Linked DNA regions of Homo sapiens. The protein of the gene in region 4 interacts with the protein of the main gene of each other region in a biochemical or structural test. Each region holds a gene or a part of one and is shown on either strand. Other genes may lie near its edges. The genes, in order: PLCG2, FASLG, NEDD9 and LYN.

Region 1 (8,736 bases), on a different chromosome or scaffold from region 4:
CTAAAAATACAAAAAAAAAAAAAAAAAAAAAAAAAAGCCAGGCGTGGTGATGCACGCCTGTAGTCCCAACTACTCAGGAGGCTAAGGCACAAGAATCACTTGAGCCCAGGAGGCAGAGGTTGCAGTGAGCTGAGATCCAACCACTGCACTCCAGCCTGGGCAGTAAAAAAAACAAAACAAAACAAAACCCACAAAACCATTAAACCGGGGGCTCCACCAAGCTGGCCACAATTTAAATAGCAGAGGGGTCTGCCCTCCCCTACCTCCAGAAGCAGTGAGGCCTAACCCCATTGAAAGCCCATTCTGGGTGGTACTTCCTCTCACAGAGGCCTGCCAGCCAGCAGCTGGGACTCGGCTCGTCGCCACGGATGTGTGCTTCTCTGAACAATGTTGGGAAAGGAAACTAGACTCAAGGGCTCCAGGGGGTTTTCTGGTCATTTTGGCTGTGGGGGTAGAGGGGTAGGGTTGGCGAGGTTCCCTGGGGCAGGGCGGTGGACCTCAGCCTGGTCACTGCCTTTGGAGGTGGTGGTGGAGGAGGGGAAAGGAGGTCTGGGTTTGAAATAACCCTCTAAGGGTGTTTTTTTTTTTTTGGTCAGGGTCTTACTCTGTTGCCCAGGCTGGAATGCAGTGGCACATGATCTCGGCTCACTGCCTGCAACCTCTGCCTCCTGGGCTTAAGTGATCCTCTTGCCTCAGCTTCCCGAGTAGCTGTGACTCAGGCTCACTCCACCAGGCCTGGCTAATTTTTAAAGTTTTTTGTAGAGATGGAGGTCTCATCATGTTGTCCAGGCTAGTCTTGAACTCCTGGGCTCAAGTGGTCCACCCTCCTTAGCCTCCCAAATAGCTGAGATTACAGGTATGAGCCAATGTGCCCAGTCCACAGATATTTTTCAAAACAGCTTTCTTGAGATATAATTCACATCCCATGCAACTCATGCATGTAAAGTGTACAGTACAGAGGCTTCAGCACATTCACAGAGCTGAGCAGCCATCGTCACAATCCATTTTAGAACATTCTTATCATCCCAAAGAGCAGCCCTGTACCCCTTATCTTTTACCTTCCGATAGGCCCGCTCTCTGCTTTCCTGGTCCTTGGCAACCACTGATCTACGTTCTGTCTCTGTAGATTTGCTAATTCTGCATATGCTATAGGTGGGTCTTATGATGGGGAAATTAAGTCCAAAGAGGGTGGCTGAGCAGCCCACAGCCATAAAACTAAGGAAGGGGCAGACTTGGAACTGGAGCCCAGATTCCTTGTTTCCAAGTTCATGCTTTCACAGGAGGTCTTCTTCTTCCCAGTAACAATTCCTAAAATAGTCAGCCTTGGTTTTGCCCCATGGGGATGAGGGCTTTACCTCCCTCATCTCACAGTCCCCCTCAGATGTAGGTACATTTCTGATACCCATAGGTATAATAATGAGGAAACTGATACCCAGAGAGGCTAATGGTCCAATGCACCATGGCTGCCAGCAAAGAGAAGAGGGTAATAGGGAAAAGCATTTGTATGCCCAAGGACTGGTGAGCAACACAGAATACAAAGAGTCAAGATGATTCAGCTTAAAATGTAATTTTCTTTCAGGTTATTCTTTCTTACCTATCCACTTCCCTTTTTCTTTCTTTTGTAGGAAAAGGAAAAGAAAGATCCCTCTACCCTTTGAGGTCACTTCCTGACCCATTTGTGCATCTATGTAGAGTGGTTACAAACTCACATCTCCCTGCCTGAATGCCTCTTATTAATCTGGGGATGGGTGGCAGGTCAGCATGCCCATGGGCTCTGACACCAGACAGGCTGAGGTTCAAATCCAGCCCCCACCACCCACTGACTTAACCCACTCTAGCCCTCTGACAGCTAACCTGTGACAGGGCCTTTCTACCTCATATGTCTGAACCCACAGAGTGGTTTCTTTCTCTCTCTCTCTCTCTTTCTTTCTTTTTTTCCTTCTTTCTTTTTTGTTTTTTTTGACGGAGTCTCACTCTGTTGCCCAGGCTAGAGTGCAGTGGTACAATCTCGGCTCACTGCAAGCTCCACCTCCTGGGTTCAGGCCATTCTCCTGCCTCAGCCTCCTGAGTAGGTGGGATTATAGGCACCCACCACCAGGCCAGGCTAATGTTTTTGTATTTTCAGTAGAGACGGGTTTTCACCATGTTAAGCAGGATGGTCTTGATCTTCCAACCTCGTGATCCGCCCGCCTCAGCCTCCCAGGGTGCTGGGATTACAGGCGTGAGCCACCGCGCCCGGCTCAGAGTGGTTTCTTTCCCTACCTATTTTATTCCATGGAAAAGAAAGAATACACAGAATGGTTCCTTCCCCACCTATTATCCTTGGGAAAAGAAGTGTCATTTTACATTAGAGTCCTCCCAGAACAGCGCCTGCCGCCTTGATGATGACGACGATTGTTAATTCTGAGATGGAGTCTTGATCTATCACCTATGCTGGAGTGCAGTGGCACCATCTTGGCTCACTGCAACCTCTGCCTTCTGGGTTCAAACGATTCTGCTACCTCAGACTCGTGAGTAGCTGACACTACAGGTGTGTGCCACCATGCCTGGGTAATTTTTGTATTTTTAGTAGAGAGGGTGTTTTACCATGTTGGCCAGGATAGTCGTGAACTCCTGATCTCAGGTAAGCCGCCTGCCTTGGCCTCCCAAAGTGCTGGGATTACAGGTATGAGCCACTGCACCTGGCAGATTATTTTTATTTTGAACAACCAAGTTAGAGTTTGAGAAAGAGATGAAGGGCCTCCAGTACTCTCTTTCAATCCACTGATTCCTTCAGTCGTTCACCTGGGGGGTGGGGTTGGGCTAGGGGTTGGTTAGCAAAAAATGAGCCAAAGAAGAAAATGAATTAAAAACATGAAAGAAAAAAAAGCAAACTGCCATTTACGATGACCATTATCTCACACACAGTGGACATTTTAACTCAAAAATACTATAGGCTCACAGGCATAGATTAAACAGAGAAACCTGTTCTTCATGTTCTTATTTTTTTGCTTGCTTCCCACAGATGAGAGAAAAATCCAGCCAGAATTGGCATCTGTCAAGATAGGCTTTTAGGAGCCACGGCTCCCTAGAGTGGTCTCCACACATTCTGATTATATGCAATCTCATTTTGCCATCAAGAGACTTAACCCACTCCCCTATCCATGTAGACTTTGTAATAATAAATTATACATATATATGACTGAACTAATATATTATGTACTTTATATAACACATACTAAAACAAAAGTGTGAAAAAGATTGGTTGAAATAAATACAAGCTGAAGTTCTAAAAAAAAAAAAAAAAAAAAAGTGAGGCAAAGGAATTGCCCCTAGATGTAGTCATTTTTCCTGGGGAATTGGCCCAATGACTTCAAGTGGTTGATGTCATAATGAGTCCTTCCAAGATCTCTTTAAAAAATTGATGTGTTAAGTGATCTGTGGTGATGAGCACAGCTATACACGCCAGTTGGGAGTGCTGAAAGAAATGAATCCACAGATCTTGTGAAGTCACAAACGAGTCCTATGGCTTGGGATACAACATTGACAGTGAGAGTGATATTCCTCAATTAAAAAACGCTATAACAGGCCGGGTGCAGTGGCTCATGCCTGTAATCCCAGCACTTTGGGAGGCCAAGGTGGGTGGATCACTTGAGGTCAGGAGTTTGAGACCAATCTGGCCAACATAGTGAAACCGCGTCTCTAGTAAAAATACAAAAAATTAGCCAAGCATGATGGCATACACCTATAATCCCAGCTACTCAGGAGGCTGAGGCAGGAGAATCGCTTAAACCTGGGAGGTGGAGGTTGCAGTGAGCCGAGATCGTGCCACTGCACTCCAGCCTGGGCAAGAGAGCAAGACTTTGTCTCAAAAAAAAAAAAAAACAAAAAAAAAACAAAAAAAAAAACAAAAAAAACCAAAAACACACACACACAAAAAAAACGCTATAACAGACCAGTGGCACATGCCTGTGATCCCAGTGCTTTGGGAGGTAGAGGCAGGAGGATTGCTTGAGGTCAGGAGTTCAAGAACAGCCTGGGACACATAGTGAGACCTCATGTCGAAAAAAGAGAAAATTAGCCAAGTGTGGTGTGCCTCTATAGTCCCAGCTCTTCAGGAGGCAGAAGCAGGAGGATCGCTTGAGTCCCGGAGTTCGAGGATGTGGTGAGCTATGATGGCACCACTGCACTCCAGCCTGGGTGACAGAGTGAGACCCTGCCTCTTAGAAAACAGAAGCTATAACTCAAGCAACTTGGAAGTGAAATTCAAGTGCCTGACAGCTGTCTAGGTGCCCCTGAAACTGCCTCTAGTCACAACAAAGATACCTCCATCAAAGAGCATAGGAAGGGTTTGAATCAGATAGCTTCATGCAACACACGAACGGAAAAATAAATTTCTTAAAGAACATATTAGCTTCTTCCCATGAGATCAGGAAAACGGGACATCAATTGTCTGGGGTTCTTTGCTCCTGACTCCCTTTGGGGCTGGCACTATGTTGATCACGTTTTACAGATGGGGAAACTGAGGCTGTCGGTTTTTAAGTGGTCTGCCTAAGGTAGCAGTAAGGGTTGGTCTGACTCCAGCGCAGCCTCAACGAGGGCTTCAAATTAGGGCCATGAATTGGCAATTCCTGGCGGGTAATTGTGAAGAGTATATTTATTTTTAATTTTTATTTATTTATTTTTGAGACGGAGTGTCTCTCGGCCACACCCATCCTAGCTCATTGCTGTCTCGAACTCTCGAGCTCAGACGATCCTCCCGTCTAGGCTTCCCAAAGAGCTGGGATGACAGGCGTGAGCCCGGGCGCCCGGCCGGGAGTGTGTTAAGTATACGGCAAACACCTGGACTGCGGCCGGCTCTCCAGGAATGCCATGATATTGGGGAATTCCCTTTGCACCTGGCCAAGTGGCCTCGGGCAGGTAGCCTCCCCTCGGGTTGCCTCAGTTTCTTCTTTGGCACGCAGAGGCGGGGCTCCAGGCCTGGGCCGCTCCATGGCGGGGAGGGCGCGGGGACGCTGCACTCGGGGTGCGCTCCGAGAGGCGGACCCGGCTGGGCGCGCCTGGGGCGGGGCGAGGCGGGGCGAGGCTGGGCGGTGCGGGGGGCGGCCCCCGAGGATCACGTGGCGCGGCGCCGCGGCCGAAGCAGAAGTAGCGAGCGCCGGCGGCGGAGGGCGTGAGCGGCGCTGAGTGACCCGAGTCGGGACGCGGGCTGCGCGCGCGGGACCCCGGAGCCCAAACCCGGGGCAGGCGGGCAGCTGTGCCCGGGCGGCACGGCCAGGTGAGCTGCCCGGCCGGGAGCGAGGCAGGCAGGGCGCCCAGGGACCTGCGCCCCGCGGGGACCGGCTCCCAGGGCGCTGCGTCCGAGGGGGTCTGCGTCCTGGCTCAGCCGGAGCGGGCAGGGACGGGGCGCACCCTCGGGGACCCCGGCCCGCCGTGCCCGGGGTCCGTTTGGTGACGGCAGGGATCCTGGCCCAGCCGCTGGCCACTTCCTCACCCCGGGCCGGCGCCACCTCTCCGGTCCGTGCGGTGGGGCGGCCCCAGCTTTGAATGGGGACCGGGAGGAAGGTCAGGGGTCGTGTGGGGGCTGGCGTTCAAAACTCCTCTTTTCGAGCGGCTCTGCGTGGGGTGGCGCCGTCTCTCTTGACGGCCCTTGTGCCCAGAGCTCGCGGACGCTCGGAGCCACACTTCCCTGTCTCACTTCGGTGGTTGCGGGTGGCGGGTGGGAGCGATACCGCGGGAGGCGCAGTCCTTCCCGGAGACTTTTGGAGAGCTTGCAGGACACTCGCGATGCCCGCTCCGCAGCTGTCTGCGTAATTATGCGTGTGTCTGTGCGTGTTGTGTTTTGTTGTGTTTTGGAATCCCAAAGAGGGCATTACCCGCACAGCGCAAGAGTTCAGGTTAAAGACGTGCCCCGTTTGGACGGGGAGCTCCTGGATTCCAGCAGGACGGTGGGGCGGGGCTCTCTTGGTACCCTAATCTTGAACTAGGGTGAGAAACTATGGGGGGCGGGGTGGTAAAGGGGTGACATGGCGCGAGGGAAACAGGTGGCCTTGCCCGTCGGAACTTAATTTGAATTTCAGTTCCATCAGTGGGACCCTGGGCAAGTTGAAGAACCTTTTTGAGTCTGTTTCCCCCTCTGGATACTGGAGCCACCCAATTTTCCAGGGCTGTGTCGAGAATTGGGGCTTATTGCTGTTCCACGAGGTTCGCTGAGAATCGGGGCGCATCCATGGAGAGTCCTTGGGCAGTTCCTGACTCTCTGGTTCAAGGGCATTCTCTGGGGCATGGGCCCTCGTCCTTGACTACAGTTCTGCGGGGAAGTTTTACAGAATTTTGAAGTCTATGCCAGCCTCAAGCAGTTTCTCTTGCAAAGGTGTGTGTGCAGTCACGTGTATACCAGCTCAGGGACAATCGTCATTGTGAGCCTCACTGATGTTTAAGTCACCTAATGATGCAGCTGCCTTCCCCCACCAGCGACTGGAGTATGGGCAGTTCCTCTGGAAGTGGAAAAGCACAGACCCCATGAATAGCCCTTTTGCACTCATTGGGTAGAGTCAATGAAAAGCTGCTGGTGAGAAAACTTTTGAAAACATTTCTTGGTCAGGCACGGTGGCTCACACCTGTAATCCCAGCACTTTGGGAGGCCGAGCTGGGCTGATCACTTGAGGTCAAGCGTTCCAGACCAGCCTCACCAACATGGTGAAACCCCATCTCTACTAAAACTACAAAAATTACCTGGGCGTGGTGGTGGCCGCCTGTAATCCCAGCTACCCAGGAGGCTGAGGCAGGAGAATCACTTGAACCCAGGAGGTGGAGGTTGCAGTGAACCCAGATCATGCCACTGCACTCCAGCCTGGGTGACAAGAGAGACTCCATCTCAAGACAAACAAACAAACAAACAAACACACACAAACACTTCTTAATTTAGAAAACAGCAAGAACACAAAGAGAAAAATTTGCCCGTTACATCATCAGTTAATATAAATAAAGTCAAGTTGTATCCTCTACCCTCTCCCAGCCTCCGATAAATAGTAACCACTCTCCTGGATTTACCAGAAGATCACCTTTATAAAAAGGGAATTGTATTATACTCATACAGTTGCAACTATTGTCTGAAGCTATTTTTTTATTGACCTCACAAATCTTTCCAGATCAAATTGCTTATCTATCATCCTCATTCTTTCTGATGGCTACTGAGCGTTCTTCAGTGCATGTGCACCATTATTTATCCAGGAGGCCCCCCACATTGATGAGCAGTTGTTTTCTGTTTTTTTTTCTTTTTTTGTATTTCTATTGCAACTATTGCTTCCGTGATTTTCTGTCGTACATATTGCATCTTTGTGCATGTCTTTCTTTACATGTACAATTGCAGGATCGAAGCATATGCGTGTTTTGCTTTTTAGTAGCTGCTCACAGGTTGCCCTAAAGGAGCAGGGGTGGAATTTACACTCTCACTTGCAGTGGCTGACACCATTCCTTTGAAAATAGTGTATTCCCTCTAATGCTGCAGGGTGGGTGTAAGGTGCAGCAGTAATGTCCCTTGAACTGTTGGAGGGGCCCTTACCACTCAAGTATTTGCCTGTGCTCCATTTTAACACAATTGTCTTGTGGGATTTTTGGATGAAATCCTGTACTGGCTTACCATGCACAGAGCACTGAAGAGACAAAAACTTCCTTGATTTCTGGTTTTGGGTCCTCGCATCTCATTTCATGTCCTTTCCCCCCCCCCCCCCGCCCGCCCCCGAGACGGAGTCTTGCTCTGTCGCCCAGGCTGGAGTGCAGTGGCGCGATCTCGGCTCACTGCAAGCTCCGCCTCCCGGGTTCACGCCTTTCTCCTGCCTCAGCCTCACGAGTAGCTGGGATTACAGGCATGTGCCACCACACCCGGCTAATTGTTTTGTATTTTTTTTTAGTAGAGACGGGGTTTCATCGTGTTAGCCAGGATGGTCTTGATCTCCTGACCTCATGATCCGCCCACCTCGGCCTCCCAAAGTGCTGGAATTACAGTCATAAGCCACCGTGCCTGGCCCATTTTATGCCTTTCTAAATAAGCTTATGAGATACAAGAACATGAATGAGCTTATGAGATACAAGAAAAACCTTTAGAAGGACATGAAATGTAAAAATGGCAAAAATCAGTTATTCAAACTCAGCCATATTTGTATTTACAAAATAAGTCATTTTATAGAATTACCCATTAAGAATGGGAAACAGGAACAAAAAAGGGATTTCAAGGCTTTTTTTTTTCTTTTTTTGAAAAAACCAAAAAAAGCAGAAGCAAAATGGAAGTTGCTGTGGTGGCTGGTGCTCTCTCCTGGGCTCAAGGTCTTGGAGACCTCCCTGCCATAGTTGATAAAGCGTGGAACGCTGGAGACCTGAGCTGGGTGCTGGCAGGATTTGAATGGTGGACTCCAGGGATCTTTTGGCCGTGAAGATCTGTTTCCAATTGCATCTCATAAGCTCATTCATGTTCTTGTATCTCACAAGCTTATTTAGAAGGGCATTTCGTGAGATACAAGAACCCCAAACCAGAAATCAAGGAAGTTTTTCTCTTCAGTGCTCTGTGCATGTTAAGCCAGTACAGGATTTCATCCAAAATCCCACAAAACGATTCTGTTAAAATGGGGCACAGGCAAATACTTGAGTGGTAAGGGCCCCTCCAACAGTTGAATGGACATTACTGCTGCACCTTACACCCACCCTGCAGCATCAGAGGGGATACAGTGTTTTCAAAGGAACGGTGTCAGCCACTGCAGG
Region 2 (6,056 bases), on a different chromosome or scaffold from region 4:
TGGTAAATCATCACATGGAAATCAAATCAGTAACTTTACTAATAAGAAAAGAGATGCAAATTAAAAATAGGGAATACCAATTTTCATCAAATTAATAAAGATTAAAAAAAAACCCAGACTGACAAAGATTTGAGAGAAAAGTGCCTGTGCAAACATTAGTTTCAGCCAGTATACATGTAAATTGCTATAACTTTTTTTGAAGAGCGCTTTAGAAATACATAGCAAAAGCTTGTAACTAGTAGTTTACGTTGTAATCCTATCGCTAAGAATTTATCTTAAGAAAATAATCAGAGATGTGCCCGAAGATTTATATATAAGGATGTTCATTACTTCCTTATGAGCCTATTTATAATAAATAATTCAGAAGAAACTTGAATGCCTCATACGAGATTAGTTATATACATTATGGTGTATTCAGACAAGCACATAATAAGCAGCAACTAAAAGTGATGTATCAGAAGGACATTTAATGCTTTGGGGATTGTGCACTCTGTATTGTTAGATAAAAAGACAAGTTACAAAAGGGTATGTTTAGTTTCATACTGACTATGTAACCATGTATGCACATTTTTATATTCTTAGGAACTGGAAAGTTTTACACACTGACATACTAACAGTGATTTTCTCTGGGAGATACTATTATAGATTATTTATACTTTCTAATTTGCTCCTTTTTACATTTTCCATTTTTTTCCGGTTAACTAATTAAATCTTTTATTCATTCACATGTGTGAGGCTAGATGTTGGGTGTTGGATGCTGATTGAGGATGAGCCAGCCCAGGGGGCCTGTCCTTATGGAGCTTTTAGCAGGGGGAAGAAGCTAAACAAAAGCAAGCAAACAGACCATGCAATTCCAAAGTTGTACTAAGTACAACCTGAGAATCTTCTTTAAGGAGGTGTTGTTTACGCTAACACCTTGGGGGTCAGAAGCCCGATGAGTGAACGGCTGTGTGCATGTGCTGTGGAGTGGGGTGGGGCTGGGGGCGGGCATTTCAGCGCTGGGAACGGCACATGCAAAAACCCTGGGGCAGGAAGCACTCATAACCAGTGTCTAGGATATCCTTGCAATTTATTTATTCCAGTATAGGTACAGCAGATATTCTTAGTGAGCATGTTCTGTAAGAATAACGTTGTACTAGGCTCTGTGAGGGATATAAAGACATGCAACATGTGGTTCTCTGTTCCGTTTCCTGCCGGTGCGTGGCTGAGTGCCAGATTAGTTGCTCGGGTGGTTTGCGGTGTAGGAATGCAGAGGAGACTCAGTTTTGCCTTTCCTGTTCGCTAACACCTCCTACATGGTGGGTTGTCTTGGATGACTAGAGAGGTCATGATTGCTCAGCTAATGTTCTCTGTGGATTGGGCCATTCTCATACCATATGTGAGTTTTACAGGCTAATCACGAACCTGACATAGACAAGCATCTCCTGTGAATATTTATTGAAGTCTCAGTTAGCTGAATTCATTAGCTAAGTGGCAGCTGTCTATCTTGTCTGAAACAGTTGAAGTCAGAGAAATAGTGTCTGTTTTGAGAACTATTGTCTATCCTTCCATTTAATTTGTCCAACATTTGCTAGTAACATGCCCTGTGTTAGAAACTGGGCTTCTCTGGTGAACTCAACGTATCGTAAGGAACTTGTCGTTATTTGAGGGGAATAAGATAATTTATGTAGTTACCCCAGAGACAAGAGGAGTCAGAAATGACAAGAGAGGGGAAGACAGAGGGATCCTAGATTTCAAAAGAGGGGCAGATCATATTTGATCAAAAAAGGCTTGAGAGGGTTTCCCAAAGAAAGCGGTAATAGGTAGTCCTTATGGGATGTTTAGGAATTTGACACAGAAATCTGCTTGAAAGAACATTACGGGCAGAAGACATGGCATGAACAAAGGCACAGAGGAAGGAAAGTGGGGGTATGTGTAGGCCACAGAACTCCCGTTGTGTGGCAATGCTCAGTGGGAGTAAGGAGATAAGGCTGGACAGATGGGCTGGGATTGTGTGATGGGGATACTTGTATACGACGGCATCTTCGGGGAGGAGCAATTAAAGGTGTTTGAGGACTCAGTGATATGAGGTGATTGTCAGAGGTCTTAAGATAATTAATTTGGGGCAGATTGTAAAATGTCACTGGGGGAAGATCTGGTGACACGCAGACAGATCAGTAGTCTTCTTCAGCCTCTGTCCTGTAAGTCTTTGGAACAAGAGAATCAGAGTGGACAGAGCCCTGGAATTGGCGTCAGGAGAGCAGGGTGTGGTCCCATCTGTGATGCTGACTAGCTGGGTCTTCTTGGATTAGTCACCCAACTTCTAAGCTCATTTTGCAATCGATAAGGTGGGACAATAATACCTACCTCAAAGGGTTGTGGTGAGTTCTAAATGCAATAACTGACATGACAGCTCTTTATGAATAAATGTTTATATTAATTATGTTTTATTGTAACATTATAATTTATACATATGTCAATCTTAATTTGGTTTATTTTTTTACCTCTTTGTTTCTGAAATATAGACTACTATGAATCCTGCAGTTCAGACCTACATGATTAGTATATGTTAGACTGTTGCCATTTACGGTTTTAAAATCTTTTTTTTAAAATGATTGGATTTAAATTCCCACCAAAATAATAGTTGCTATTTCATTTTAACATATATTTTTCCTCTCTCTATGATACAGGCCACCCCAGTCCACCCCCTGAAAAAAAGGAGCTGAGGAAAGTGGCCCATTTAACAGGTCTGTATCTGGAAGGTACAGGTGAGATTTGGGAAAGCTTTTGGCAAAAGGCAAAATGGCTGCCTGGTTTCCATTACCAGGCTCTAGAGAGTTGTTACTTCCTGGAGACAGTATTTGAACCCAATAATACTAACACTTTTCTTGTCGAGTCAGTCTTATGAACACACTTTGATCCCCTATTCTCTGGGCAAGGCCCTCTTCTAAATTGGAGACCTGGAGCTGATTATGACATGACCCCTGCCCATAAGAAGCTCATTCTTTTCAGTCATTCCAAAGTCCCTTGGGGGATTGGGGGCACAGATCCAAGAGGTGAGAGATGAGAAGGTGAGGAATGAGGACTTATTTTAGTCAGTGCTTTCTTGGTTTTCTGGAAGAGCTTCACTCTGCTTTGTCCAAGAGTATAAATAGGAGTGAGAAGGGAGACTCAATCCTGGCACTTGTAGAGTTTCAATATGTGCCTGTAAAGTGGAGTGAAATGATATGGTATGGGCACTCCCATTATAAACTACATAAATAATGGAATAAATATCACAGAAAGTGGTAGGCTATTGTCCCTGGAATTATTTAGGCAGAAATTATAGAATGATCCGGTCACATCAGCAGACACTTACTGAATACCTGCTGTGTGCCAATTTGGGGATGTGAAGATGAGTAGCACATGGCTCTTGCCCCCAGGGAGCTTGACATCTAATAGGGAAAGACAGGCACTTATGATAATTTCAGTACTTCAGAGATTTAGGTTATGTTCATGATGTTGTGGGGATACAAAGAAAAGGGAACTGTACCCCAAATTGAGGGGCTGAATAATTCTTACTGCAGGTGAGAAGATGGACCAGATGGTCCCTAAGATCCTTCCCAACTTTAGAACTTTAGAGTTCCTTGGATTTGGCTTTTTCCTTCAGGAAAGGACTTCAAAGCCTAGCAGATTTGGTGCTAGTTCTGAAGATAGTAAAATCTTTGTTCCAGAGAGCAAATATTTTCTCAATAATTTCTTACTGCAATGGATTACGGGTATATACTATTGTTCCAATTGTGTGGATGACAAAATAGGACAACGTTGTTGAGGAAATTCTGTGATGGATCAAGTTCTGACCCCTCAGCCAGTTCTATACCAGCTGTCATTCTGGGTGAAACATTTGTTGAAGGAAGGGCCCACAGTTTTGCCTTAGAAACTTAGTTTGTTGGATGCATGACTATTCCTTGTTGAAAGCTCCTTTTGGATTTATTTCAGGCAAGTCCAACTCAAGGTCCATGCCTCTGGAATGGGAAGACACCTATGGAATTGTCCTGCTTTCTGGAGTGAAGTATAAGAAGGGTGGCCTTGTGATCAATGAAACTGGGCTGTACTTTGTATATTCCAAAGTATACTTCCGGGGTCAATCTTGCAACAACCTGCCCCTGAGCCACAAGGTCTACATGAGGAACTCTAAGTATCCCCAGGATCTGGTGATGATGGAGGGGAAGATGATGAGCTACTGCACTACTGGGCAGATGTGGGCCCGCAGCAGCTACCTGGGGGCAGTGTTCAATCTTACCAGTGCTGATCATTTATATGTCAACGTATCTGAGCTCTCTCTGGTCAATTTTGAGGAATCTCAGACGTTTTTCGGCTTATATAAGCTCTAAGAGAAGCACTTTGGGATTCTTTCCATTATGATTCTTTGTTACAGGCACCGAGAATGTTGTATTCAGTGAGGGTCTTCTTACATGCATTTGAGGTCAAGTAAGAAGACATGAACCAAGTGGACCTTGAGACCACAGGGTTCAAAATGTCTGTAGCTCCTCAACTCACCTAATGTTTATGAGCCAGACAAATGGAGGAATATGACGGAAGAACATAGAACTCTGGGCTGCCATGTGAAGAGGGAGAAGCATGAAAAAGCAGCTACCAGGTGTTCTACACTCATCTTAGTGCCTGAGAGTATTTAGGCAGATTGAAAAGGACACCTTTTAACTCACCTCTCAAGGTGGGCCTTGCTACCTCAAGGGGGACTGTCTTTCAGATACATGGTTGTGACCTGAGGATTTAAGGGATGGAAAAGGAAGACTAGAGGCTTGCATAATAAGCTAAAGAGGCTGAAAGAGGCCAATGCCCCACTGGCAGCATCTTCACTTCTAAATGCATATCCTGAGCCATCGGTGAAACTAACAGATAAGCAAGAGAGATGTTTTGGGGACTCATTTCATTCCTAACACAGCATGTGTATTTCCAGTGCAATTGTAGGGGTGTGTGTGTGTGTGTGTGTGTGTGTGTGTGTATGACTAAAGAGAGAATGTAGATATTGTGAAGTACATATTAGGAAAATATGGGTTGCATTTGGTCAAGATTTTGAATGCTTCCTGACAATCAACTCTAATAGTGCTTAAAAATCATTGATTGTCAGCTACTAATGATGTTTTCCTATAATATAATAAATATTTATGTAGATGTGCATTTTTGTGAAATGAAAACATGTAATAAAAAGTATATGTTAGGATACAAATAATTTTTAGAATTTACTAATATTTGAATTTTTTGCTTATTATTTCTTTCCTCCTTGATTTCTTCATTCATTATGATATCAGACCACTTTTAAGAATAATTTACTGGAGTGAGAAGAACTATGAATCAAATCTTTCTGCCTTTGCTAGGCCTTCCTTCTCTCTATATATTCTCTTTCCTCTTCACCTCCCAGAGTTTCCATTACCAATATTATGACCAATGTTAAGCTTAGCCAACTTTCCATAGATTTGATGAGAAATTATATTTTCCTGAAGGCAGAACCATGGCACAGTGGAAAGGGCACATATTTTGGACTAAAAAACTTAGATTTGAATCTTTGTTCTTCCACGTACTGCCTATGTAAGCACTGGTTAGGTCACTTGACCTTCCTTGAACAAAAAAAGAGCTGAAAGTATCAGACACATAGAACATCAAAAAATAGTGTCTGCCACTACTAAGCCACTCTATTAGAGCCACTTCATTCTCCAGAGGCCACTGATCTGTGGGATCCATCTAAGCACCTGGTTTCTTGTATTCTCATGCTTGTCATTCACAACGGCCTTTTCCTATTTTCTTCAACCACTCACTATCATGGGCTCTCCCTAGACTTTGTTATCATTAAAAATTATAGTAACTCCTTTGGAATTTGATTTTAGGTGTCTTATTTTCACAACATCATCTTCTATTATTCCAGCGGAATTGGTCCAACATTTTCTTTTCTAAAATATTTTTGAAAATATTGAGACTTCTAATTAATAAACTTTATTATTTTCTTATATACACATCAGCTCCTTCCACGTCTTCACTTCTCTCTATGTCCAGCATAAATGTCATCATCTGTCATGACA
Region 3 (7,782 bases), on a different chromosome or scaffold from region 4:
GCTGCTCACCAGGTGGTAAGAAGGTTACTGGGGCAGGAGACAAAGAACGCCCAGGACGACTCTCGCACGGGGATTTCTATCTGCCTCTGATCAAGCATGCTCCGGTGCTCCACTTCAGTGCCTCATGGTGCTCTTGGAGTTGGAAGTGGCCCAATTCCGAATGCCTTGAGCTGATTTATGCTGATTAGATCTGTAGCCCTTTGCCTTTCTACTGTTTTCTGTTTCTCTTCTTTCCCTTCTTTGTAGCCAGTATAATTGCACAGCTACCAACCCTCAGCTCCCATACAACTAGCCCGACTCTGTTGCTTCTGATTTCATGTGGGGGCTTCCCGATTGCTGAATGGGCCCAGAAGAAAGGGACAGACAGAGGCCAGAGTGGTCAGCTATCTCCTCACTTAATAATCTCAGTACAGCTCTGGTGGAGTCATTTCCTGGAGGTCATTTTAGTAAAAGGACCAGAATCTTGTCCTCTGTAACTCTATGACTTCTCTTGTAAAATACAGAATACCCAAAAGATGGGAGAAGAGAAACAGAGACAATTTTAGGATTATGACACCATCCTTAAATGGTTCCATGAACAGGGGAAACTGCTGCCTGATTTTTTCTTTATGTATGTGAACTTTTCATTGTTAGATGAAACCCAGCGCCTCCTGGAATATTAACTACCCAGTGAAACCTTCCCCTGAAATATGCACTCCTCAGTTTCCCTTTAGCTTCCCTGGCCGCTCACCTCTCTGTGTCTCACACTTCCTGGATCTCATAACTGTCAAGAAAAAGGACTTCAACCTTATTCTTGAAGAGTATCACAAAGCTTCCTGAGGACTGTCCTCTATGGCTTTATCTCTTTTAATTGCCCTGGCTAAGAGGAACCTGGCTCACAGCAGCAGAACTGGACCCGTCCCAACTACTGAATAGAGGGCAGATCCCTTCCATTGCACAGCCCTCCAGAGCGGAAAACACACAGGACCCGTGGCAATGGGGCTAGCACAAGGGGACGCGAGTAGTGCAAGTCAGCTGCAAAGAAATGAAAAGCACGAGGCTGAATGATCAAGTCCACGTTGCTAGAGAAGAAAATAGACAGCAAAAGCTCAGACAATGACAGCCGAAAATCCCACGAATATGTCATGGTATAAAATAAAGTCATGAACCTGCCCCATCCAATCCGTAATCCTTTCTTCCATAAATGAGCCCCACCTCAATGACATTAAGTGCATCCAAACATCTTAACAAAGCATTAGAGTTCACTTTTAGTGTTCCGAGGGCTTGTGCTGAATCAACAACGTCCCCGACTTCGCTGTGCTCTGGGAAGGGGGCAGACATGCGGGAATGGCTGCCCGCGTGCTGGGAAACTTTACTAATGCCAAGAAATGAAATCTTCCGAGCCTTTGAAAGGCCTCCAAGAATGTCAGCACGTACTGCCTGCCCACTCTCTGCTGAATGCCTACTTTGGCTGTCTGCTTAGTACTGAATGTGCCAGACAGGCCTTCATACAAAGACGGAGAGTGTGTTGGGCCCATGAAAGGGGAAGGCACAGCTTTTCTGATGTGAATGGTGAGATTCAAGAAGTAGGTGACGAAAGGGGAGGGCGAGGAGGGGCCCTCAGGAAAGGTATGCATAAAAGACCGAGAGAGAAGAGTTGGCATCCACCTATGTGTTAATAAATTTGTTGTCAAAGCTGGAGATGTATATGGCTGCTGGCCTATGCTCCACGCTTGATGGCATGTCTACATGCCTTGCTTGTGGATTCTCTCTGGATCCAAGGCTCCTGTCATCTGAGAACAAGAATTTCTAAGCCCTGCCAAGGCATATATATGTGTACTTCTATTGGCTTTTCAACTCCAAATATAAATGCTATTTGTACTGTGTGTTATTTGGGATTTTTCTTTTACTCTTTTCACCTCCAATATAGAACAATATTGAGAAATGTTCATTGTCGAACATCTGAATATCTCGGGATTTTTTTTTCCTTAAGCTCACTTTGAAAAAGGAAGAAAAATGTTTTGTATAGTGAACCATGCTCTAACTCTGTAACACTGCTACTCATAATTCCTTGGCACGGCATATCCTGCTAGAGGAAAGAACTCTTCTGGTGTTTTGAGCTTTTCCAAGGAGGCAGTCTGATGTCACTGGTGGCAGATGCAGTGTATATGTATCTGTCTTTTGTCTGCACCATCTGTTTTTCTCCTTACAGTCTATTGTTCAGATTTATGCTTCTCTCTTTCCAGGAAGTGTGCCTTTCCATAAGAGCACGGGCCTTAGGTGATAAAGGGACCGACCCAATATTCTAACACGGTTTCCTTCTCTTCCTTCCCTCCTAGAATCTTATGGCAAGGGCCTTATATGACAATGTCCCAGAGTGTGCCGAGGAACTGGCCTTTCGCAAGGGAGACATCCTGACCGTCATAGAGCAGAACACAGGGGGACTGGAAGGATGGTGGCTGTGCTCATTACACGGTCGGCAAGGCATTGTCCCAGGCAACCGGGTGAAGCTTCTGATTGGTCCCATGCAGGAGACTGCCTCCAGTCACGAGCAGCCTGCCTCTGGACTGATGCAGCAGACCTTTGGCCAACAGAAGCTCTATCAAGTGCCAAACCCACAGGCTGCTCCCCGAGACACCATCTACCAAGTGCCACCTTCCTACCAAAATCAGGGAATTTACCAAGTCCCCACTGGCCACGGCACCCAAGAACAAGAGGTATATCAGGTGCCACCATCAGTGCAGAGAAGCATTGGGGGAACCAGTGGGCCCCACGTGGGTAAAAAGGTGAGTAAATGACTAACTAAATTTTTGTTCCTACTTATTTTTTTTTCCCATTACACTTGGAGCATTTGGAAATGTTCCCAAATTAATAACTTGAAGCTGCCAAGAAGTAGATATAACCAATACCTTAGCTCAGGCATCATGTTTGCATGATTTTGCCATTCATCCATCATTCAGCAAAACTTCTTTGAACTACCATGTGCTGAGTACAGTTGATTTCCAGCCCTCCTAAGTTCCTGTGTCATCCTGGGTTACATGGGTTATTAAACTGTTTCTCTCCATCTTTCTCATATATCAGCTTCTAAGCCTTCACTCTGTGCTCAGATCGTTTCCTATCTTTTCTGTTTCTTCATTGAGTGGAACAAACACCAAATCTCGTACAAGCCTGATGATGCAACAAGGATCCTCCCTTGGCCAAAAGCTGAATCATGACCTCAGTGGCCTGGCTGGACAAGGAACCCACCCAAAGTAGCGAGAGTGAGGAAGCTGGGAGTATGTCATGCTGACCAACTCGTTCTATAGAGTTATCAGCTTAGTTTGACTCATTTAAAAATGCACAGATACTAGTGGAATTGGAATGAAGCCATCCTCCTGTCCTTCAAGTCATTCTTATAATAATGCCTGAGGCAGTGGGTGAAAACAGTGGAGCTTGGATATTTAGGAAGGAATTAATTTAAAAATACAGTGTGGGGAGCTCTGCAACACCCTGTGTAATCCCAAATACTTTAGCAATTTGAGGTCAATAGAAATTCACTAATTGAACAATGAATGTTGAGCATCTAATATATTTTTGATGCTTGTGATACAGTGATTAATTAAAGATAAACAAAGCCCTGGTGATGCTTACATTGCCGTGGGGGAGACAGAAGCAACCAAGAGAATGCTAGGTAGGGACACGTGTTATCAGGAAAATAATGTCAGTGGACTGATCGGGGGTAACACCCACAACCAAGGTGATGCTTATGTGAGCATCACAAAGGAGGGATTTTCTCTTTCATTTGCTGGCAAATTCCAATGGGTCCTACAAGGTTTGGTATTAGGAATGAACAAATTTAACTGGATAAGAAGATATCCCTGAATTACAAGAGGAAAGATGCAATTACATACCAGAAAGAGCTTGTTGACCCTTAGAACACTAACTATAGATGTGTCCTGCCCCAAGTAAATCTAATATGAAGTCTGATTTTACAAACCTCTGTAAATTAGGGAATATCTATTTGATGTATTAGAATCCTCTGTTGAAAAAACAAAGGATTCCTTTAAACAATGAAAGCACTAATGCATTTTTGGGTACATGGAAAGAGGCAGCCTAGAGACCCTGTGGAGAGCCCTTAGTGTTTGGCTGGGGAGGTGCCAGGGCCACCCTCCTGCCCTCCCCATCCTGGCCATGTCACCACCCCAGACCCTGACCCTGTGTGGGTAGATTCCTTTAAACAACAAAGCACTAATGCATTTTTAAATCACCTTTGATATAAAAAGTATGTTTTACAAAATACTTCTCAAGAGCACGCGTGTGGCATGAACTGAGCGTAGGTTCGTTAAGAGGGATTCCTCAAGGGTGGTGCACAGCTTTTAGACTTGTACTGCCCACGACAACGATGCTGCCTAGAGGTGATAAACTGACTTGTGGCTTTTCAGTCTTCCTTGTCCTAGGAATTGTAGATTCAAAGGGAAAACAAAACCTGGCTTCTATCTCCAGAGGGGAAAAATAACAGTTGAAAGGTGTAACTATAAATAAGTAACTTCACTCATTCTTAGTCCTGGTTGTTTGCACCTTAAAAATAGCTCTCCCACATCTGAGCCAGTGTGAGGCAGAAGGGGAGGCCAGAGCAGGAAATGCTTGGCTGGGAGGTGGTGGGCTCTAAACTTTCATCACAGTTGACTTTGGCAGGAAGGTAGCGTGTTTTCCTTTTTAGACCCAACCTTTTCAGCTCCAAGTCAGAGAAGCCTAAGCCTTCAGACTTCTTCCCCTTGTATCTGCTGGGACTGCCCTGCAGGCTTTCCCCATGGCTCCCCGTCCTTCCAGAGGGCAGAGATACGGACTCATCTTCCCTTGGATTGATGTCAAAGGGCTGGGGTGCTGGGGTGACCCTCGGGCACTCACATTCCATGTTTTGTTTTGCTTTTTTTAAGTCTACACTCAGTAGAACATTTTCTGTTTAGCAAAAGGTAGATGAGTCCTGCAGGAGGAAATCAACTTCTGAAAATGACCTGTGCCAGCCCTTCCAGGAGTTGCAGCCAGGGCTGAAGAGTAGGCCGTGCCTAAAGCATCACACAGTCAGGGTCTGGGGTAGTGACATGGCCAGGATGGGGAGGGCAAGAGGGTGGCCCTGGCACCTTCCCTGCCAAATACCAAGGGCTTCTCCACAGTATCCTGATCCTGGGTCTCTAGGCTGCCTCTCTCCATGTACCCCAGAGCAGTGGTTCACATCCATGGGAGTGTGGTTGCCTCTTCCTTTCTTTTCACTCCCTTCCTCACTTCTCTTTTCTATCTCTCTCTCTCTCTCTCTCTCTCTCCCCCCATCCCTCCCTCCTTCCCTCTCCCTCCCTTCCTCCCTTCCTTCCTTTCTTTCATAGTGGAGATGGCTTAGCTGCTAGGAGGTGATTTTAGCCTTCCAGGCAATTGCAACTGCTTTAAAAAACATCTGTCAACATCTTCCTGGGTATAGGATATTCTCAGTGGGTGGGAATCATTCTAATGACTTAAGCCTAGGCCCTAAGAGATAATCCCAGCACACTGGGGATCAGGCGTGGCTTTTTCATTTTTCTGAGTTTGCATTTTAGTAGTTTTACTGACTGGCTTAATAAAGCAATTTGCTCATTTTCTCTTTAAATTTTTCATCTGTAAGATAATATGAGCCCAGAACTAGATATGCCTGGTAGTTTAAGCTATGGTCTTTAAAAGCTCTTGAATAAGAAAATAAGGAGGCAGTGGAATCTTATTCTGAGCCACCGGGGTGGGGTTTAAAAATGTTAATGGGCATAGAATCACCCAGAGAGGTAGGGCAGTGAGTTTAAATGCAGATTCCCAGGTCTTTCCCTCAGAGAAATTAATCCAGTAGGTCTGGTTGGGGGCCCAGGAATCTGCATCTTATTGAGCTCCTTGCATAGTTTTGTGGGTGGTGGCCTAGGACTAGACTTTGAGAAACACTGTAAAGGGACCATGAAGGGGCTGGGACATGCTCCAATCTGATTATGATTTGGGACTTTCCATAGTTCAAAATTCCCTTGATATTGCTACAGACTGTGGGCTTCCGAAGTTTTACCCAGCACTGCTTTTTTCTACTAATGAATCACTTAAGGAAAAAAAAAAGACAGTGAATTCTGCCTTCTATCACTTCAACTTTGCTCTCTTGGAAACTCCAACCTCTACCCACCCTCTTGCATCCCCTCCACACTAACTGACATTCATCACATATTAAATCAGCATTTAGAGAAAGAAATATAGTCATAAAATCCCCACCCTTTTAGGAAACAAGCAGACAGTGTGAGAATTGTGGAGAGAGTAAGGCCTTCAGGGTTCAGCTGATGCTGGGTTGTTTCTCCATAGCTGTATATCCTTTGGTAAGTTACTGACCATCTCTACGCCTTGGTTTCTTCATCTGTTTAATGGGAATGATACTAACTACTTCATAGGCTGTCGTGAGAATTAAACAGAAGCATACATAGAAAGTCCCTGGCTCAGTGCTTAGCATGGCAGGGGCTTAAAAGAATGCATTCCTCTCACCTTGCGTTTCCTTTCTCAGAGTTTATTTCCTACTACATCAGCCCTGTTGTGTTTCTTACGACACACCGAAGGTACAAGTGCTTTCTTGCTAACACATATGCTGTGTTTTTTGAGTGTGTGGCTTTCTCTTTGGTTCTGCAAGAATTCTGCAAAGGGTGGAAAAAAACTCTCCAAGTTATCTGAAAACCATATACGCTGACACCTTTACTTAATTTCATTGGTCTTTTTCACTCTGTGTTTTGTGCACAGGGCCGTTTTATCCATTAGGCGTTGTAGGCAATATGCCCAGTGCCTATAAGAATGTTTGGGAGCTGAATAAAAGATCTTTTGACTCCAAAATATGAAACACAAAAACTGCAAAATAGAAATTAATAAACATTTAGGTCAATGTCTAGGAAACCATATCATGTCTGCCCCATTAATTGTTTTATTTAGGGCTTATAACTATTTCATCATATTAGAAAACAGTATGTAGGTTATATTTTTCTCACTTTGCAAAGATTTCTAAATATGCATCATGGTTGCCAAGAACCCACAGGCAATCCTAAATTAAATAAGTTACTCATAGTCGAATAATTTGAAAAACTGAATTATAAAGGAAGAAAAAAAGTTTTCAATTTTTAACAGCAAAAATTCTACTTAATATGGGATTATGGTTTGGGGTAAATGAAATCTACAAATGTTCAAAACCAAAAGCCTAAAAAGATCTAAAATAGTCTCATTTCTCTGCTTCAAAGATCAGTGAAATTGCTACCTGAGTTCATCCATTTCACAGTTGATCTGCATGGGAAATTATATGTGCTTCTCTGATTTTTCTTTGGATGTGTCGCTTTTATTCTAACTGCTGGAACTATTTGTTGTACCTCTTTCTGAAGATCAGTTTGGGGCTAAATTACAAGCTCCATCAGCACAGGGGCCATGGCTGCCTCCTGACTGCTGTAGGCTGAGCACTTGGTAGAGCATCAGCCCACAGATAGCAGCCCAGTGAACCAATGAACAGGTGGAAGCAAGAATCAAAGTGTTAAATGAGAGTTAACCTTTAATTAACTGAAAGGTGGTTCTGATCTTATCACACATCCACCCTCACACGCTGCTGCTCGAATCCCATGGTTCAGCTCATTACCATCTGGTATGAGAGGTGTCAGATTATATACAGTCATTTCCCTCGCTGAAGGACCTTCCAGAATGTCACTGCCTGTGTCCTGTAAGGGTAACTATTCATATACAATCAATGAGCACCTTGATGCAAAGCATGAGTGATGTAAAGAAGGGCTTATCTGAGAGTTTAACTTC
Region 4 (7,782 bases):
CCAATTTGGGACTTCAGCCAGCTTTGGCTTCTTTGGGTTCTTGGCCCAGTTTATATATAATTATTGGAATGTTAGGTAGATAAGTGTCTAAGAGCTAAGAATTTTTAAAGGCTGCACTACCATGGAGTGGAGCCGGGAGGCTGGGACAGAGTCAGCTATGACCGCTCAATTGCTGCTGTCTCATCTGGGCTCCTGTAACCAACTCTGGTCTGTTTGAGCCAGGCATCGTGGTTCTATCGCCAAAAGCCTACTGTGTTATAATCGTACACTCCTTTCTTTCACACATGCTCAGCCTGATCTTCGCTCTCCACTTTTCCCAGTTTTACTGGCTTTTTCTAACAAGTCTTGTTGAACTTGGGTTACCAGCAGACAAAAGGAAACAGAGGCAGGGCTCCTCTCTCCCAGCCGCCACCAAAATTGCCACCCCGTGTCATCTGTTTCAGTAGTGCCCACTCTAGAAGGAGCTATCCTGAACTTCCTGACGCCCTCACCATGCCACTGCCTGCTGTTTCTGGGCAGCAGAGGCTTCCTAGAGAAAGTCAGACTCAGGAGCTCTGCCTTCACCTGGTTATCACCACTGCCCACCTTCTGTTGACTTCCCATCAAGGCTGTTTGAATCTTTTCCAGGGTCAGGTAAAAGCTGTGCATCTCCCCAGTGCTCAGGGTTTGTGACAGTTGGGAGAAAGGCAGGGGACACGAAGTCACTGCTCTCCAAACCTGCCCTGTCCTTTTCCTACTGTCCGTCTGGTTTCTGCTCCACTCAGCCTCTGTCCCACTTCTCAAGTCCCTCATGAAATGAAGCCTCCTGCTGTGCTTAGTGCTGTGCTGTGCTCAGTGCTGGGATGGGTTCATGTTCCTGCAGAAATTGTGGACAGGTAGTCAGGTGAGGAGCAGGGAGCACTGGGGATGCATGCACACCTGGCAGGAGAGGGTATGCCAGGCATGGCTTCCGGGAGAAGTAAAATCTCAGCTGAGACAGGCAAACTGCATAGGTCGGGTGAAAGGGGCAGGGAGGGAATGAGCGTTCCACACAGAGGCAGGGGGTGTAGAAGCACAAAGGAGGGGGTCGTGGTGAGGAGGTGGAGGGCTGAGCCGGGGCCGGGTCATACGGGGCCTTGGCAGCAGTGCAAAGGAGCTTGGACCACATTCTTTGTTTCCACTCGGAAGTGAAATACTGGACTGAATAGTCTTTGAGACTGATGTAGGCCACACTGATTATTTTACTTGAGATTTTTGTGACCATGAGAATATCATCTGCCAAATCCCTGTAGTAGTGGGCTAACAAGATAGTATTCTGGTCATGTGAAAACCCCAGCCCATTTCCCAAAGGACTTACTTTGTCTCTGATAAGAGGTTTGGTGACAAGTTTGAAGGCTCCAATGTATACAAGTGAGAATAGAAAAGATATTTTCAGCCCTAGAGGTGTTTATCAACTGGCTAACATGACACCACTGAGAGCATTAAACAGCATAAAAATAATGACAAAGCTGTGATCAGCAGCTGCAGATGGTTTTTGTACACATTGACCATCTAGGGTGAGTAAAGGGGAGTTCAGGGAAGGCCCACGGGGCAGAAGGTGAGGCCAGGGATTGGCCTAGAGGGGAAGCAAAGGCAGACCCAATACCAAGGAGCTAATCTTTTGCTAAGCAACGTGGTCTGGAACTGGCGGCCTGAAGTGCTTGATTACCAGGGATACTGTTGCAGATGACTGGGGAAAGTCAGATCCTCCAAGCCGAGCCACCTGCAATTCAAGGTAGAATCTGGCAGAATACATTCATTCCTGTGTGAAAAATTCGAATCAGAGTTTTCTCTAACTGCTTACCAGATAAACTACTACTTGGCTTTCTTTACTTCTTGCCCTTTTTCTTGCTTCTTACTTCCCTCCTTTCCTCCTCTCTCCTTGTTTCCTTCCTTCCTTCATTTCCTTGTTCCTTCCTTCTTTCCTTGCTTGCTTTCTTCCATCCTTCCTTCCCTCCTTCCTTTCCTTTCTTCCTTCCTTCTCCTTAACTTTATAATTTGGTAATGTCTTCCTTAAAAACCTGACTTTGGAACGATACTACACTTTCTATTCAGCAACGAGTAGTAGTTTTGCCTCCCTATGTTATTGTTGTGTTTAAATCCTGGATTCTTTCCTGCTGTCATACTTTGTCATGAGAGTGAATCTTGCCGGGCGTGGTGGCTCATGCCTGTAATTTCAGCACTTTGGGAGGCTGAGGTGAGTGGATCACCTGAGGCCAGGAATTTGAGACCAGCCTGATGAAACCCCATCTCTACTAAAAATACAAAAACTAGCATGGTGAAACCCCGTCTGTACTAAAAATACAAAAATTCGCCAGGCATGGTGGTGCGTGCCTGTAATCCCAGCTACTCGGGAGGCTGAGGAAGGAGAATCACTTGAACCTAGGAGGCGGGAGGTTGCAGTGAGCTGAGATCATGCTACTGCACTCCAGCCTGGGGGAGACAGTGAGACTGTCTCAAAAAAAAAAAAAAAAGAGTGAATCTTTGTGATTGTCCTGGAGGGAATGTGCAGAGAGAACTTGGAGAGCCAGTTCCATGGGCTGTTGATTAACCTGACAGAAACGACATCCTGTTCTTGATACCTTAATAATTTATTTGTATTAGCATGTCACTTTCTCCAACTCTATTTTCATAGTTGGTTCAGGCTGCCATAATAAAATTCCATAGACTGGGTGGCTTAAACGAGAGACATTTATTTCCCACAGTTTAGGGGCAAGGAAAGCCCTGGCAGGTTTCATGTCTGATGAGGGGCCATTTCCTGGTTCATAGATGGCACCATATAGCTGTGTCCTCACGTGGTGGAAGGGGCAAGGCAGCTCTCTGGGGTCTCTTTTACAAGGGCACTAATCCCATTCGTGAGGGCTCCACCGTCCTGATCTAATCACCTGCCAAGGCCCTGCCTCCTAATACTATTGCCTCGGGGTTCAGGATTGCAACATTTGAACTTTGGGGTAGGGGGCGGGGAATGGGACACAAACATTCAGACCATAGCATCTGTTTTCTGATTTGAGAAACTGGCATAATAACATCTATGTATCTACATGGATGAATTTAGCAGGGTCTTGAAAAGATTCTTCACACATTAGAAAATGTTAAGACATGGCCAGGCGCGGTGGCTCACGCCTGTAATCCCAGCACTTTGGGAGGCCAAGGCGGGCGGATCACGAGGTCAGGAGATCGAGACCATCCTGGCTAACATGGTGAAACCCCGTCTCTACTAAAAATACAAAAAATTAGCCGGGCATGGTGGTGGGTGCCTGTAGTCCCAGCTACTCGGGAGGCTGAGGCAGGAGAATGGTGTGAACCCAGGAGGTGGAGCTTGCAGTGAGCCAAGATAGCGCCACTGCACTCCGGCCTGGGTGAAAGAGCGAGACTCCGTCTCAAGAAAAAAAAAGAAAATGTTAAGACATGTTCCTTTTTTTTTTTTTAAGATGACCATTGTTGGAGATTTGGCAGAGGGTGGTCAGTTATTTTAGAAAGGGCTCAAATGGTGATTGCCATTACCCACTGTCTTTAAAAGCTGAATGATCAAAATAGTATACATGAAAAGATTTCAGGAATTCATAAGTTTTCCGGTTTTCCTTGATGGCACTTTCCAGTCACCTACCCTACATATGAAAATGGGAGCCTATTTCTGTTTTCAGATTGCAGAGGGAATGGCATACATCGAGCGGAAGAACTACATTCACCGGGACCTGCGAGCAGCTAATGTTCTGGTCTCCGAGTCACTCATGTGCAAAATTGCAGATTTTGGCCTTGCTAGAGTAATTGAAGATAATGAGTACACAGCAAGGGAAGGTATGTTGCACTAATGATCTTTAGATGTTTTATTATTGTGTTTTATTTTGTTTTTGTCTGTTTTTGACAAAGCAATTACAATAGTCACCATTAAGAAAAACTTATTTGGTACAACATTTAAGCTGTACCATAATTGTCTGCTTATGGTTCTATTCTAATAGTTTCTAGAAGGTACTCTCTTGATTAACTCCACATGATACTTTTGTTAGGCTTACAAATGCTATCAGTTGTATTTCAATTAAGCAATGCAAAACACAAATAGATTCAGCAAGATGATTCTTGTTTATTTTGTATTGTTAAAGTTTTCACTCAAACAATGAATATAATATACGGGGCTGTGGAGAAAATATTTGTAACATTAATTCTATATTGTTTATTCCAGCCTTTTAATTACAAATTAAAACATGAACATTACCATACACACAGAACTAAATATAATGCAAAAAATCTACTTCTTTATTTTCCCACATTCTGTATTATATATATGAACCAAAAATGCACAGAGAGGCCTAAGTTCCCCAGCCTGTGGCACATTGTCAGGGGGCCAAGCATGGTCGGGACTGCAGGGCCTTTCTTGGGCTAGGATTGCCCACGTGGTTATGACTGAGGATTCTTATGCTCTCACCCACGAGAGCTGAGCAAATATTTTTGCAGTGCTCACTGTCTTCTGGAAGAGACAAGCACTTTCTTGAAATTCCTAAGCATTGTTGAACAAGGATTATTATTATTTTATTATTTTGAACCTGGGAGGTGAAGGTTGCAGTGAGCCGAGATCGCATCATTACATTCCAGCCTGGGTGACAAGAGTGAAACTCCGCCTCAAAAAAAGAAAAGAAAAGAAAGTATGGGGTCACATGTTCATGACTTTTTTGTTTAAGTTTAAATACCCAAGTAAGAACCACATATCTTCTTCCTTAGGTGCTAAGTTCCCTATTAAGTGGACGGCTCCAGAAGCAATCAACTTTGGATGTTTCACTATTAAGTCTGATGTGTGGTCCTTTGGAATCCTCCTATACGAAATTGTCACCTATGGGAAAATTCCCTACCCAGGTATGGTTTACTTAGCTATTTACAATCAAGCTGTATAAATGAGAAAAAGTCAGGTTGCATGAAGGCATTAAAAAGTAATAATTACTTCATCTACCCGATAGCAAAGAATAAGTGCTTTGAGCCAGAACTTGATTTTCACGGGCTGGGCATGGTGGCTCACGCCTGTAATCCCAGCACTTTGGGAGGCCGAGGCAGGTGGATCACCTGAGGTCGGGAGTTGGAGACCAGACTGACCAACATGGAGAAACCCCGTCTCTACTAAAATTACAAAATTAGCCAGGCATGGTGACGCATGCCTGTAATCCCAGCTACTCGGGAGGCTGAGACAGGAGAATTGCTTGAACCCGGGAGGTGGAGGTTGCAGTGAGCTGAGATCGCGCCATTCCACTCCAGCCTACACGACAGAGTGAGACTCCATCTCGAAACAAAAAAAAGACTTGATTTTTATTTTCACTATCTTTAGCATAAATTGTTCTAAGAGTGCTTAGACACTTCTTTGCCTCCTTATTTTGAGTGTGTGTTCTTGTTCTGCACTGATTAATTCCACCACATACTAGAATGTTCCGGGCATGGTTGTTGGTGTCGAGATGAGGATGGATAGACACAGGGGCTCCTCCAAGGCAGTCCCCCTGACTGGAAGGAGGAAACCCACATGGAGACAAGGATTTCCGATGCTTGGTTTTGTAATAAGTGCCCTGGAGTCTCTCTCTCTTCAAGAAATAACCACCTTTGTTTATCAGTGGGAGGCCCTTCTGCTCTTTAACATACTGGTATCAGTGAGGGCATCATTCAGTATTTATTTCCAGATTCCTAACACCTGAAGCCTGCAGAGCCAGATTCTGACCATCCCTCCATTTTTCCATGGTCTGTGCTGGCATGGTTAAGAAGAGGGATTTCGGCCAGGTGCAGTGGCTTACACCTGTAATCCCAGCACTTTGGGAGGCTGAGGTGGGTGAATCACGAGGTCAGGAGTTCGAGACCAGCCTGGCCAACATGGTGAAACCCCGTCATTACTAAAAATACAAAAAATTAGCTGGGCGTAGTGGTGGGCATCTGTAATCCCACCTACTTGGGAGGCTGAGGCAGGAGAATCACTTCAACCTGGGAAGCACAGGTTGCAGTGAGCCGAGACTGCACCCCTGCACTCTAGCCATGGCGACAGAGTGAGACTCTGTCTCAAAAAAAAAAAAAAAAAAAAAAAAAAAAGAGGGATTTCTCCCAGAGCCTTCATATTTTCATTTATGTTTGACTATTAACAAAATATTTGCATGAGGGGAATTTAAAATTAAATTTTTAATGTTTAAATCTTTCTCCTATTCAAAAAATATTTGAGTATGCTAGGCACTCTCAGCTGCTAGGATGCCATGGTATCTGCCCATGTCCTTGAGAGTGAATATTGTAGTGGGGAGAGACTGATGTTTATCAAACACACAGCCATCCTGTAGGGTGGTGAGAGTAGTGTGGAGCCTGCGTGGAGTGGCTTAGGGATTGGCGAGTACTCACAGAAGGGGGTGGGGAGCTGCTGGTTTTATTCCATGGTCCTGGCAGCAGCAGGGACTCACAGAGGGAGGGAGTCTTGGGCTCTCTGAGGTCTGCATGTCCCCATGGGGAGAGCAGCCAGAGCATGGGCTTGGCCAACAGGAGCAGGAGGCCAGCGTGGTTTGGGCCTCTGTGAGTATTTGATGGATGGATGGGTGAATGAATGAATGAATGAATGACGCACCTAGGCCATTTGATCTCTAGACAGTCGATGGATGAGAAAGAAGGCTATGTAGCTGGGGGTTAGAGTGGCTCAGGGAGAGACTTACTGGCCATGTAAGAGCAGCCCCTCTTACTCTGCTGAGATGCAAACCAGGGAAGGCTTTTGGACAGAGCAGCCACACAGTCTGCGTGCTCCCATCACTACTGTTTCATGTGGGGATGAGCCACAGAGAAACTGGGGCAGGGACCAGTTGGCAGCTGAAAGCCTTTGGGTGGTGTCTGCCTGCACAGTGGACCGGCTGTCCCAGGAAATCCCTTTAGTGCCAGCATTTCATCTTCCAGCTGCTCTAGACACTGAGATTAATGAATTAACATTGCTGCAAAATAGGAAAAATATTTCTAATCAGCCCCAGTGTCTGATGTTATATATCTCTATCTCCATCTATGCCTACATCTCTTTCTATAATCTGTCTGTAGAGAAAGATTATATAGTCAGATTATGTATATAATCTGACACCTGATAAACATACAATCTCATAAAAGAATGTTTTGTGATATGCGTGGTGTGCTGCATGTGATGTGCTACCATGGCCCCTGAGGCTTGGAGAAGGTGATTGGGCCCCTCGCTGGTGGCAAAGCTGCTCTGAGCCCCAGATCCATGTGCCTCCCAAGACCCCTCAGCCAATGTGCACAATGCCCAGGATTTGGAAATATTTGGGGTGAAAAATCATTTTTTGAAAAAAGAACTGGCTGGGCACGGCAGCTCACACGTGTAATCCTAGCACTTTGGGAGGCTGAGGCAGGTGGATCACCTGAGGTCAGGAGTTCGAGACCAGCCTGGCCAACATGGCAAAACCCCATCTCTACTAAAAATATAAAAATTAGGCTGGGTGCAGTGGCTCACACCTGTAATCCCAGCACTTTGGGAGGCCCACTTTGTGGGCGGATCACAAGGTCAGGAGATCAAGACCATCCTGGCTAATATGGTGAAACCCCATCTCTACTAAAAATAAAAACAATTAGCCAGGCGTGGTGGCAGGCGCCTGTAGTCCCAGCTACTCGGGAGGCTGGGGCAGGAGAATGGCATGAACCTGGGAGGCGGAGCTTGCAGTGAGCTGAGATCGCGCCACTGCAATCCAGCCTGGGTGACAGAGCGAGACTCCATCTTAAAAAAATAAAAAAAAAAAGAATAAAATAAAATAAAAATAAAAAGTA

The links.
Region 1: the proteins of LYN (region 4) and PLCG2 form a complex in vitro, tested with the Homo sapiens proteins (one study listed by BioGRID).
Region 2: the proteins of LYN (region 4) and FASLG form a complex in vitro, tested with the Homo sapiens proteins (2 studies listed by BioGRID, with this or other methods).
Region 3: the proteins of LYN (region 4) and NEDD9 form a complex in vitro, tested with the Homo sapiens proteins (one study listed by BioGRID).

The regions. Positions count from the first base shown.
Region 1 is NC_000016.10:81,774,168-81,782,903, forward strand, and holds the start of PLCG2 (1-phosphatidylinositol 4,5-bisphosphate phosphodiesterase gamma-2), read left to right. Parts: upstream 1-5,123; 5' UTR 5,124-5,257; intron 5,258-8,736. UniProt on the Homo sapiens protein: The production of the second messenger molecules diacylglycerol (DAG) and inositol 1,4,5-trisphosphate (IP3) is mediated by activated phosphatidylinositol-specific phospholipase C enzymes. It is a crucial enzyme in transmembrane signaling.
Region 2 is NC_000001.11:172,661,665-172,667,720, forward strand, and holds the end of FASLG (tumor necrosis factor ligand superfamily member 6), read left to right. Parts: intron 1-2,669; coding exon 2,670-2,726; intron 2,727-3,957; coding exon 3,958-4,352; 3' UTR 4,353-5,212; downstream 5,213-6,056. UniProt on the Homo sapiens protein: Cytokine that binds to TNFRSF6/FAS, a receptor that transduces the apoptotic signal into cells. Involved in cytotoxic T-cell-mediated apoptosis, natural killer cell-mediated apoptosis and in T-cell development.
Region 3 is NC_000006.12:11,208,264-11,216,045, reverse strand, and holds part of NEDD9 (enhancer of filamentation 1), read left to right. Parts: intron 1-2,318; coding exon 2,319-2,765; intron 2,766-7,782. UniProt on the Homo sapiens protein: Scaffolding protein which plays a central coordinating role for tyrosine-kinase-based signaling related to cell adhesion. As a focal adhesion protein, plays a role in embryonic fibroblast migration.
Region 4 is NC_000008.11:55,994,684-56,002,465, forward strand, and holds part of LYN (tyrosine-protein kinase Lyn), read left to right. Parts: intron 1-3,662; coding exon 3,663-3,816; intron 3,817-4,734; coding exon 4,735-4,866; intron 4,867-7,782. UniProt on the Homo sapiens protein: Non-receptor tyrosine-protein kinase that transmits signals from cell surface receptors and plays an important role in the regulation of innate and adaptive immune responses, hematopoiesis, responses to growth factors and cytokines, integrin signaling, but also responses to DNA damage and genotoxic agents.